3 linked regions of the Homo sapiens genome follow. The protein of the gene in region 1 purifies or fractionates together with the protein of each later gene. This does not show direct contact. Each region holds a gene or a part of one and is shown on either strand. Other genes may lie near its edges. The genes, in order: ATG4C, TOR1AIP1 and PLXDC2.

Evidence for each region.
Region 2: the proteins of ATG4C (region 1) and TOR1AIP1 purify together in Homo sapiens (affinity purification with mass spectrometry; one large-scale study listed by BioGRID and IntAct). This does not show direct contact.
Region 3: the proteins of ATG4C (region 1) and PLXDC2 purify together in Homo sapiens (affinity purification with mass spectrometry; one large-scale study listed by BioGRID and IntAct). This does not show direct contact.

Annotation. Positions count from the first base shown.
Region 1 is NC_000001.11:62,787,066-62,790,723, forward strand, and holds part of ATG4C (cysteine protease ATG4C), read left to right. Parts: intron 1-3,658. UniProt on the Homo sapiens protein: Cysteine protease that plays a key role in autophagy by mediating both proteolytic activation and delipidation of ATG8 family proteins.
Region 2 is NC_000001.11:179,888,774-179,892,431, reverse strand, and holds part of TOR1AIP1 (torsin-1A-interacting protein 1), read right to left. Parts: intron 3,123-3,658; coding exon of another isoform or gene 3,120-3,122; coding exon 3,063-3,119; intron 1-3,062. UniProt on the Homo sapiens protein: Required for nuclear membrane integrity. Induces TOR1A and TOR1B ATPase activity and is required for their location on the nuclear membrane. Binds to A- and B-type lamins. Possible role in membrane attachment and assembly of the nuclear lamina.
Region 3 is NC_000010.11:20,284,922-20,288,579, reverse strand, and holds part of PLXDC2 (plexin domain-containing protein 2 isoform 1 precursor), read right to left. Parts: 3' UTR 1-3,658. UniProt on the Homo sapiens protein: May play a role in tumor angiogenesis.

The sequences.
Region 1 (3,658 bases):
GTTGCACCCTTCACCGAGGTAGAGAACATCGAAAGAGGACCAGGTTTGGGAAACATGCTTTGTTTATTAGTATTTTTTGTTGTGGTAGCAGTGTTTAAGGTTAATTTCTTAGTTATTTTTACCCTTTTGTGTCATTGTTGTAGTTTTGTATATTTGAGTAATACTATGCCTAAAATAGGTTTTTTTGGTATCATTTTTTCTTGATTGAGCAGGGGTGGGGTTCTACATGAAAGCATCTGGAAATATGTTGGTCTCTGTTTTGAATCTATCTGTAATATATTAAACCATGTATATGAATAGGTAACTGAATAATGCAGTTACATGCCATCTTTATTTTCACTTGAGATTTGGTAGTAAACTGGCATCTGGTTAAATTCTAACTTCATTCATTTGGTACATACATAAATATACATGCATTAGGGAAAAATACATACTTGTGATTTTTCTCTGAAATGCTTCATTCATGTAATTTTTGATAGATATTGAACCCAAACAGTAGTGATTTATAGTTTATTGTTTAAATTTTACATTTCTTAGTAAAGTGGTAGAGTGTATAGAGCAAAGAGACTTTGGTGTCAGACTGCCTGGATTCATGGTCTCTATTTGCTGTATACTAGCAGTATGACCTTGAAGAAGTTATACAGCTTTTCCAAGCCTTTTTTTTTTTAAATTTATAAGATGAGGATAATAATAGTGCCAGCCTTATAGAATTGTTGTGAGAATTAAATGAAATGATATATATACATAGGTTAATAAAATACTTGGTACAGATTTTAAGTGTTTATTATCATTATTATAATAGTGATACTGGGTTCAAGATCATCTTGACTCCTGTGACACCATTTTAATTTTAGGATACCTTGTAACTAATAAAACTCAATTTGAGAAAAAAAATTTATTTGGTATTTAGATTTGGAGAAAATATATAAAATAGTTTTGCTTATTCACTATTGTCCCAGATACACCAGCACATAACATCTTTCACAGAGTTCTGAGATTATGTGTAGTTTACAGCTGTGATAGAAAACTTATGGTGATTAGTTTGTGATTACTTATTGTTTGTTAGGATTATTACCTTTATTTTTAGCCAAACCTTTTCGAAGTTTGAACTTGCTTTTAGCTCTTATTGAATAGGGTGAAGAGTAGTTAGGCTTTATGAAGTCTGATCAGCTGCTCTAAAATCAACCTAACTTCTACTTTTTCCCTTATTTTTTTCTTTTTACTTTCAAACCTGTAAAAACATTGAAATGGTAGTATGACAAATACCTGTACATCCTTTTACCTAGATTCACTAGTTGTTAACATAGTGCCTCTTTTGCTCTCATTCCTTGCTGTTAGACAAGTGCTGTTTCTCTCTCTATAAATACACACACACACACACACACACACACACACCTTTTTTTCTTGCTGAACTATTTGAAAGTAAGGTGGCAACGTGACACTTTACCCCCAAATAATTCATCATGCATCTCCTAAGAACTAGCACATTCTCTTATATAACTATAATGCCATTAGCATATCCAAATAATTTAACCTTGATATGATAATATTGTCTAATATGCAGTCCATATTCAACAATTAGATTTTTCCAAATATCCCAGTAATGTCATTATACCATTACAAAAATACCGAATCCAATTAAAGACATTAATTGTATTTAGTACTTATATGTCTATTTTATCTAGAACAGTCTTTATCATTTCTTTCTTTTTTTGTCTTCAGGTAGAATGCCTCACAAAATTGATTTATCTGATTTTTTCCTCACAATGAGTTTCAGATTGAAGAGTTGTGGGTTTTTCTTTTTTTTTCTTTTTTCTTTTTTTTACTATTACATGGGTGATGTTTTGAACTTTCCATTTAATCATATTAGGATTAACATGATCGTTTATTCCATTATTGGTGATTAAGTTTGATCACTTAGTTTAGCCAGATTTTTATATTCCGAAAGTATGTTTTCCCTTTTGTATTTAGTAATCTGTAGGGGTGATAAATTGAGGTCATGTGGATATTCTGTTTTGCAGGTTTTGTTTTCCTATCCAGTGATTTTAGTAGCCATTGATAAAAGCATTGGTGGTTGCCAAATAGTGATTTCCCACTTCTGTCATTCCTACATGTATTTGCTGGCTCTCTTCTCTAAATAAGAGCTTTCTCTTTTTTATTTTAGTATCACTATGTACCCAAGTATCCTTTTTTTCAAAATCTATGCAGTGCGTTATAATTTGCTACCATCATTCCTTTTGGTGATGAAATTATCTCAAATCTGGTCAGTAGTAGATCCTTCAAGCTGGTTCCCATGAACTTTGGATATGTCCACATTGGTGTTTGAGCACTTTCTTACTCCTATTTGCACAATAAGATGTTCCAGCCTCACCTTGTAAATTTCCTGCTCAATACATGGAATCAGCCATTTTACCACAGAGTCCTGGTTTATTTTAGTGGAAAATGATTCTTAGAAACCAAGATCTGGGCCGGGCGTGGTGGCTCATGCCTGTAATCCCAGCACTTTGGGAGGCCGAGGCGGGTGGATCATGAGGTCAGGAGATCGGGACCATCCTGGCTAACACGGTGAAACCCCATCTCTACTAAAAAATAAAAAAACAAATGAGCCGGGCGTGGTGGCGGGCGCCTGTAGTCCCAGTTACTAGGGAGGCTGAGGCAGGAGAATGGCGTAAACCCGGGAGGCGGAGCTTGGAGTGATCCGAGTTCGCGCCACTGCACTCCAGCCTGGGCGACAGAGCGAGACTCCGTCTCAAAAAAAAAGAAATAAAAGAAATGAAGATCTGGGTATTGAATATGCTCTTTGCTACTGGGGTGTCATTGGTTCTAGACCCTTTAAATGGACACACATATACACTTTTTTTTTTTTTGAGACAGTGTCTTGCTCTTGTTGCCCAGGCTGGAGTGCAATGGCGGATCTTGGCTCACCGCAACCTCTGCCTCCTGGGTTCAAGCGATTCTCCTGCCTCAGCCTCCCGAGTAGCTGGGATCACAGATATGTGCCACCACACCCAGCTAGTTTTGTATTTTTAGTAGAGACAGAGTTTCTCCATGTTTGTCAGGCTGGTCTCGAACTCCGGACCTCCGGTAATCCACCCGCCTCGGCCTCCCAAAGTGCTGGGATTACAGGCGTGAGCCACTGTACCCGGCCAACATATACATTTTTTAAGAAATCATGAGTTCATAGGATACCTTCAATTCAAATTCAACACTGCAGAGTTCTCATCACTTCCTTCCAATTCCTGTTTATATCTCTGTTTTCCCAAAGAGAGAATTCTGATTCTCAATTATATCACTATTTTTACTCATCTAACCTATCCTACAACACACATAAAATAGTTTTGGAATTACTAGACTGACTGATACCGCTTCCAGCAACAGATTTACCAAGTAAAGATTTCTTTGCCATTTTATGTTCTTAGAATATATCCCACTAAAGGTATATATAGTCAAAATAGGTGTTCAAAGTTATTTGAATTATTTTTTCTGTGTGATTATGTTATGAATGTAAAATATAGTTAGGTTCCTACTAAATTACTTTTTAATATACTCTTTGTAAAATCAGTTATCTGTAAAACTACTAAAGTGACATAATTTAAAACTTTGTAATATATAGTTATAGAGAACTCTAGAACAGTTATATCAGCTGGAGAATATTAAG
Region 2 (3,658 bases), about 120 Mb from region 1:
GCGTGATTGCGGCTCACTGCAACCTCTGCATCCTGGGTATAAGTGATTCTCCTGCCTCAGACTCTCAAGCAGCTGGGGTTACAGTGCACAGCACCACCACGCCTGGCTAATTTTGTACTTTTAGTAGAGACGGGGTTTTGCCATGCCAGCCAGGCTGGTCTTGAACTCCTGACCTCAGGTGATCTGCCCACCTCAGCCTCCCAAAGTGCTGGGATTATAGGCGTGAGCCACCACACCCAGCCTAAAAAGCTTTTTTAAGTCTCTAAAGAAGTGGCCTGAACTTAAGTGAAAGATGAATTAGAGGAAGGTACAATGATTTATAAAGAAAAATGAAGCGTTTCCCTTTTGGCTCATCTTCAAATTTAGAAAATAATTAAAATGTAAAAAAAACTAAGTCTAACAACATTCAATGTAGATTCATTTAAAACCACAAATCATGGTATGTCATGTCCTATAGCCAGGCAGACACTGAAATGAATTAAAACCCGTTCAACGAACGTATTACAGCAAAGGACACTGAACTCGCCGTGAACAACGTATCGAATTCACTTTCTAAATGAAGAAAGGGCCAGGTGTGGTGGCTCACGCCTACAATCCCAAAACTCTGGGAGGCCGAGGCAGGTGGATTGCTTGAGGTCAGGAGTTCGAGACCAGCCTGACCAACATGGTGAAACCCCATCTCTACTAAATATACAAAAATTAGCTGGGTGTCATGGTGGTCATCTGTAATCCCAGCTGCTTGAAAGGCTGAGGCAGGAGAATCACTTGAACCAGGGAGGCAGAAGTTGCAGTGGGCCAAGATCACGCCATTGCACTCCAGCCTCGGTGATAGAGCAAGAGCCTGTCTCGAGAAAATAAAAATAAATAAATAAATAAAAATAAAAAATAAAAATAAAAATCAAGGAGAAAGGCCGGGCGTGGTGGCTCATGCCTGTAATCCCAGCACTTTGGGAGGCCAAGTGGGGTAGATCACAAGGTCAGGGAGTTTGAAACCAGCCTGGCCAACATGGTGAAACCCTGTCTCTACTAAAAATACAAAACAAGTAGCTGGGCGTGGTGGTGGGCACCTGTAATCCCAGCTACTTGGGAGGCTGAGGCAGGAGAATTGCTTGAACCTGGGAGGCAGACGTTGCAGTGAGCCGAGATCGCACCACGGTACTACAGCCTGGGTGACAGAGCAAGGCTCTGTCTCAGAAAAACAAAAACAAAAAATAAATCAAGAGAAAAACCTTAATTGGTAAGTTGTTATCTCCTTTTTCCTAATAGTGTGAATTTAATGAAGACTAGCAGGACTAAATTGATTACATGTTTTTATATGAATTTAAGCAATAATATAGGCATAATTATAGACAACAAAAACCAAGGCTGTTTATGGGAGGTCCTAGTCATAGGGACTGGGTCCCCACAAACTGACATAATAAATTAGTATTCTCAAGCCAATGACTAGATATATATACTCTTGTATTCTATTAATCTGGACCCTCAAAGAGACCTTGTAAGAATTAGAGATAGGGTTGGGCGCAGTTGTGCATGCCAATAATCCCAGCACTTTGGGAGGCCAAAGCGGGTGGATTGCTAGAGCCCAGGAATTCGAGACTAGCCTGGGCAACATGGTGAAACCCCATCTCTATAAAAAACACAGGAATCAGCCAGGCATGGTGATGCATGACTGTAGTTCCAGCTACTCCAGAGGCTGAAGTAGGAGGCTCAGTTGAGCCTCCAGAGTAGCTGGGACTACAATAGGAGGAGGAGGCTGCAGTGAGCCAAGATCACGCCACCGCACTCCAGCCTGGGTGAGAGTGAGACCCTGCCTGGAAAAAAAAAAGAATAGAAATAAACGAACATAATTCACTCATTTTAGTATTTCTATTTGTTTTGTATGTCGAATCTGCAAGAGACATAGCAAGAGAATGATTAGGGTTGAAAAGGAAATGCATCATATGGTTCTTTACCACAGGTTCATTAACAAAACCTTAGTAGATCTTTACCACTGGAATACTTAAAAGGATAGTCAACTATCTATCGAAATAAATCAACATCATTCTTTGATAAAGAGAATGGGAAGGTACAGAAGCCTAATATAAAGATAAATACATTTCCTTTTTAGTTCCCATGATAAAGCATCTTTAAGAGCCAAAAAAACAAGGAAAATGAAGTAAAAGTAGACTGCTTGGAGTGTCTTTACTAGTTTTCTTCATAGTCATGAAATCAATTTCAGGGCAATACTTTTAATCGTTTTAGTCAAAAAGATAACTGAGGGAGGGACATTTTGTCGTTCTGTGCCACAGAGCTCCAGCTTGAATTTTTTGTTAGCAGTATACTGGAAGAATAAAGTCCCTGACCATAGTTTAAAATCATCATAAAGAATCACAGGAATATATAAGAAACAATCTCTTTAAAAAAGGAAGCTTTTTATATATGAATATAGAAATATCTCTGTATATATGTTAAGTAAAAATAAACAAGAAAGTGCAGAAAAGTAAGCCAGGTGCCGTGGCTCATGCCTGTAATCCCAGCACTCTGGGAGGCTGAGGTGGGTGGATCACTTACCCAGGCGTTTGAGATCATGTGGGTAACATGGCAAAACCCCATCTCTACAAAAGATACAAAAATCAGCCAGGCGTGGTGGTGGATGCATAGTCTCAGCTACTTGGCAGGCTAAGGCAGGAGGACTGCTTGAGCCAGAGAGATTGAGACTGCAGTCAGCCCTGGTTGTGCCACTGCACTCCAGCCTGGATGACAGAGCGAGATCTTGTCTCAAATTAAAAAAAAAAAAAAAGACAGAAATGAGAGTTTATAAAGCCAAAATTTGTATTATAAAAAGGACAAGATAATTTCATCCATGAATTTCTGTAAATCTCCAAAAAATATAAACTGACAACATTGGTTGCTTTTGATGAAGAGAGACTGGCTGGCTGAATGACAGAGGGGACAGGGAGATTTTTTAATGTATATTTACAGTAACTTTTAAGTTCTGAATCATATGAATACATGTACAACCATATTTAAAAATAAAACTGTATTTATAACAAAGGTAAACCAACAGACAAACAATCTCTTACCATATCTTGGGTATCTTAGAGGGGGTCGACGTAACCTGATTACAAGATCTTCACTCACTGCTAATATAGGAAGAGAAAACATTTAAAAATATATAAAATGTGAAACATACTAGCTTTATTACATGATCATCCCTTATTTATTCAACAAAGGTTTACAGAGCTTTTATTTACGCTAGAGAAGTAGAGACAAGCTTTCTAAGTGACAACTGTTGCGAACTAGTGATGATAGTGAACTAGAGACAAGTTTCCTGCCATATAAAATTTATAGTCTTGATGGAGAAATTTGCATTTTTTCTCAGCAAACCGTAGCTGTAGGAAGGAAAGAAATACTAAATAAAATTCTTCTAAATTGCTCAATTAAGAACCAAAATCTGTATTATGGTACCAACTCAATTATCTATTCCATTTGTGACTGACCCTCATTGTGGATTATTTATGGAATATTTTAATTTTAGGGTTAACATCCTGAGATTCAATACGCTCATTCTATTTAACCTTGTGTTGAAGAAATGCAAATTAATTTTAAATAAAAACATTAATGTGGGCCAGGGTTTATTTTAGACCATCTATAGTTCAATGGCATAGGGATAGCGGAG
Region 3 (3,658 bases), on another chromosome or scaffold:
GCTTGCAGAAGTATGTAGCATCTCTGAATTATTGAATTTGAACAAAGGTTTCCAATAGAGGTCACACTCTTTTTGCTCTCAGACACCATTAGTGCAGATTCAGATACAATCATTTTTACATTTGCAGGCTCAGGTACGTTCAACAGAAGGTCACCGAGAAGTATGGGCTGGTTATTTTAGCATGACAGAATGCAGGCTTGGAATTTCTCCTTGACATGGCAGAAGAAATAGGAATGATGCCCAGAGGACTGGAATAAATTCAAAATGCTTGGTTTTCCAAGTTCTATTTTAATAAACTTCGGAAAATTAACCTTTCCCTGAAAGACACGTCCTTGGTTTGGCACACAGGGCTTTCCAAAACAGTGAGAAACGAACTGGCCATGTGCTGCACTCACACACATAGTCATTCTTTTTGCTTGGGGTTGACTAGGTTCATAGGGCCAGATTTTCCTCAGTGTCCTCTTGTAGCAGTGCCGCAGTGAGCTTTGTGATTCTGACAAAGGGTGCCATTATATCCACTTTGAAATGCATTACAAATATTCTGCATGCTGGTGCAACTGGCATAAAATCTGGAAAGCCACCGCCCCCCCCCCCTCCCCCGCCGCAAGAAGTGCCCAATTTCTTCTCTTTTCACACTTCAACATTTCAAATGACTACACACAGAATTACCAGAAACAGTAGTAAATTCCTGGCATTCGAAGTTCCCATGATCCCAGCTGGCATATAAAAAAGACTCTCTCCTTTTTTTCCCCTGAAAATAATGTACTCTCCAGGCACTGTTGAAATGCTTCAAATCAGGCAAATGAGAGATTTGTTTTGACCAATCAATGAAAAGACTTCCCCCTCTTCTCCGTGAGGGCCCCAAGACTGGGTTACGCCATACACAAGATGTCTGTTTCTAAAGAGACTTCACTGATTTCCCTAAAATGATTTTAACATTTCTTTGCAAGTGAAGCTCTGATGTTGCCTAATGTTATTTTCAGAGTAGCCTGCTGCAGGATGCCTAATTTGAGTTTTTATTTCCCTGCTATAAATGTGACAATCTGAGTATGTTTTCATTCAAACCACCTTGAACATGGTGGCTGAGGCTTCACCACAAATGTCCAGAAAATAGCACTGGAGTCTGTCTGAGTCCTGAGATGGTCAAATCTCAGAGAAATCCAGCTCTGGGCCCGGAAAGGAAAGTGCCATCTCTTAACCTTTCCTCAGGAAAATTATTTTATTGATTTTTTTGCCTTATTTTCATGCCTTTTAAGTCAAAGGAAGATAAATGGAAAGTCTCTTTTTGGTCATTCACTAATTCTCTAGGGCAAGTCACATAATTCTCTAGGACAAAGGCCTCCATGATGTTAGGATGAATGCCATAGAAGAGGTATGGGGGGTGATGGCTGCATTTTAGACTAATCATAGGCATATCCTTTGCTTTCTCTATGTCAGGGGTCTCAGCATTGCTTGCAGAATATGTGCCCCAGTGTCTGGATGTCTGAATGACCTAAATTTGAGCTGGTCATCAATGAGTATTTATTAGCACATTGCTCTTAAGAAGTTAATAACTCGGCCAGGCACGGTGGCTCAGGCCTGTAATTCCAGCACTTTGGGAGGCGGAGGTGGGCGGATCACCTGAGGTCGGGAGCTGGGGACCAGCCTGACCAGCATGGAGAAACCCCGTCTCTACTAAAAATACAAAATTAGCCGGCTGTAGTGGCATATGCCTGTAATCCCAGCTACTTGGGCGGCTGAGGCAGGAGAATCGCTTGAACCTGGGAGGCGGAGGTTGCAGTGAGACGAGATCACGCCATTGCACTCCAGCCTGGGTAACAAGAGCAAAACCCCATCTCAAACAACAACTAAAAGAAGTTAATAACTCTGCCTAATAGCACATTTAGATTTTTATTTTTTTTTCCATGAATCATCTCCATTCACTCACTCTTAGGTTTATACTTTCCCCTAAAATTCCCCCATGAAACTTCTAAAATTAGTTTCATGCTATGTATTTGTTTGATAGGCACAGAAGGTTTACAGCTGCATGGTCAGTAAGCGATACTTTGGTCATGAATGTATATATACATATATATTTGCAATGCTGAGAAAAAGAGAGACTGCTGTTAAAAATCAAAATTCTCGTGGAATGAAGAGAAGCCACTGAGATTTTTTTCAACCAGAATGAAAATAAATAAAATATCACTATCTGCCAAATCAAAAGCTTTTATGTTATTCCATTATGAAAGACATTTATTGAGTAATTTGCAAATGTTAATAAGCCTTAGAAACTAGGAAAAGCTGAGTACTAGTTTATGACTTACATTTAATTTTTTTTCCAGCCTTTTATCCTGGGTTTAAAGTAACACAGAATCTTTCAGTGTCAACAGTGAGCTGGAAATTAACCTATAATAACAAGTTTTGAGCATTTTGCTCCTCCAGGCAAAATTTGGTCACTCATAATAAATATATTATGAAGAAGCCAATGATGATGTATTCCATAAACTTGTTATGAAAAACTGACTCCAGAAATTATGTGACTTTACTTGAATAATTACCATTTTACTTCTCTACAATAATCATTGTGAGAGCAGTGGGCATTGGATGGTTGAAAAGTTATTCCAGACAATAATTAGGCAGATGTATTACAATTTAAGTTGAGGCTAGATCAACTTAATCAAAACCTTAAGAAGTAATACCATGTTATGATATGACAATGGTAGAACAGGAAATTATAGACACATTTGAGGCTGGAGTTTTCTGATTTCCCTGATTGTCTTATGTCTGGGATGGTCTAATAAATGACATAACCACCACACACACCTAAAGTGCAAATGCTTTTTTGATACACTGGTGTTTCTGAATACCTCAAAACAGTGATATTAATAATTCAAAACCCAATAGAAATATTGGGTCGAGAAATCAAACTTCAACTGTTGCATCTGGTCAGTAAGACTGCAGTGAACTAGAAAGTATTCTTAGGTCAGGGAGAATTTTGAGTAACTTTTTTTCTCACAGATAAAATTAACAGGTCTACAGCACAGACATGCAGTGATATATTATGTTTCAGACACATTCTTCAGGCAAACAGTTTCTAGTTCCCATTTTAAGTAGAATAGAAAATTGGAGTTGAAAATTGATAGAGTATTGTTGATCCTATCTACTTGTAAAGTCTGGTTTAGGGATGTTATTGTATTATAATGATCGGTTACATGCCTGGACTCTCACTACTGTATATCACAAGTTACTAGCACAGTCACTTGGTTCCAGTAGGTGTTCAATAAATATTTCAGTGAACTGAACAGTTAAATAAATGAACAAATAGGGAGATGAATCAAAGTGCTCTGTAAAATGTAAAATGCTTCACAAACATAAGGTAATAGGAGTATATAAAAGGTAACACCACAGACCTCGCATTATCTGCCCAAAAAACCTTATAAGGACAAAAATGTTGTAATAGTTTGAAGAGCAAATAAAAATTGCAATTATATATGTGGTCAGAAAATCAGCTATATAGATCATTCATTTTCAAATATATTTGGGAAGAAATAAAACAAAGGCAGAAAAATTTTAAATGGCCAAAATAAATTGTATTGCTAACTTAGATGGCCACAGATGGGGGCAGGGGTGGAGAGAGGAGAAATTGAAAACACCACAAAGACCCCGCAATGGCTAGAAC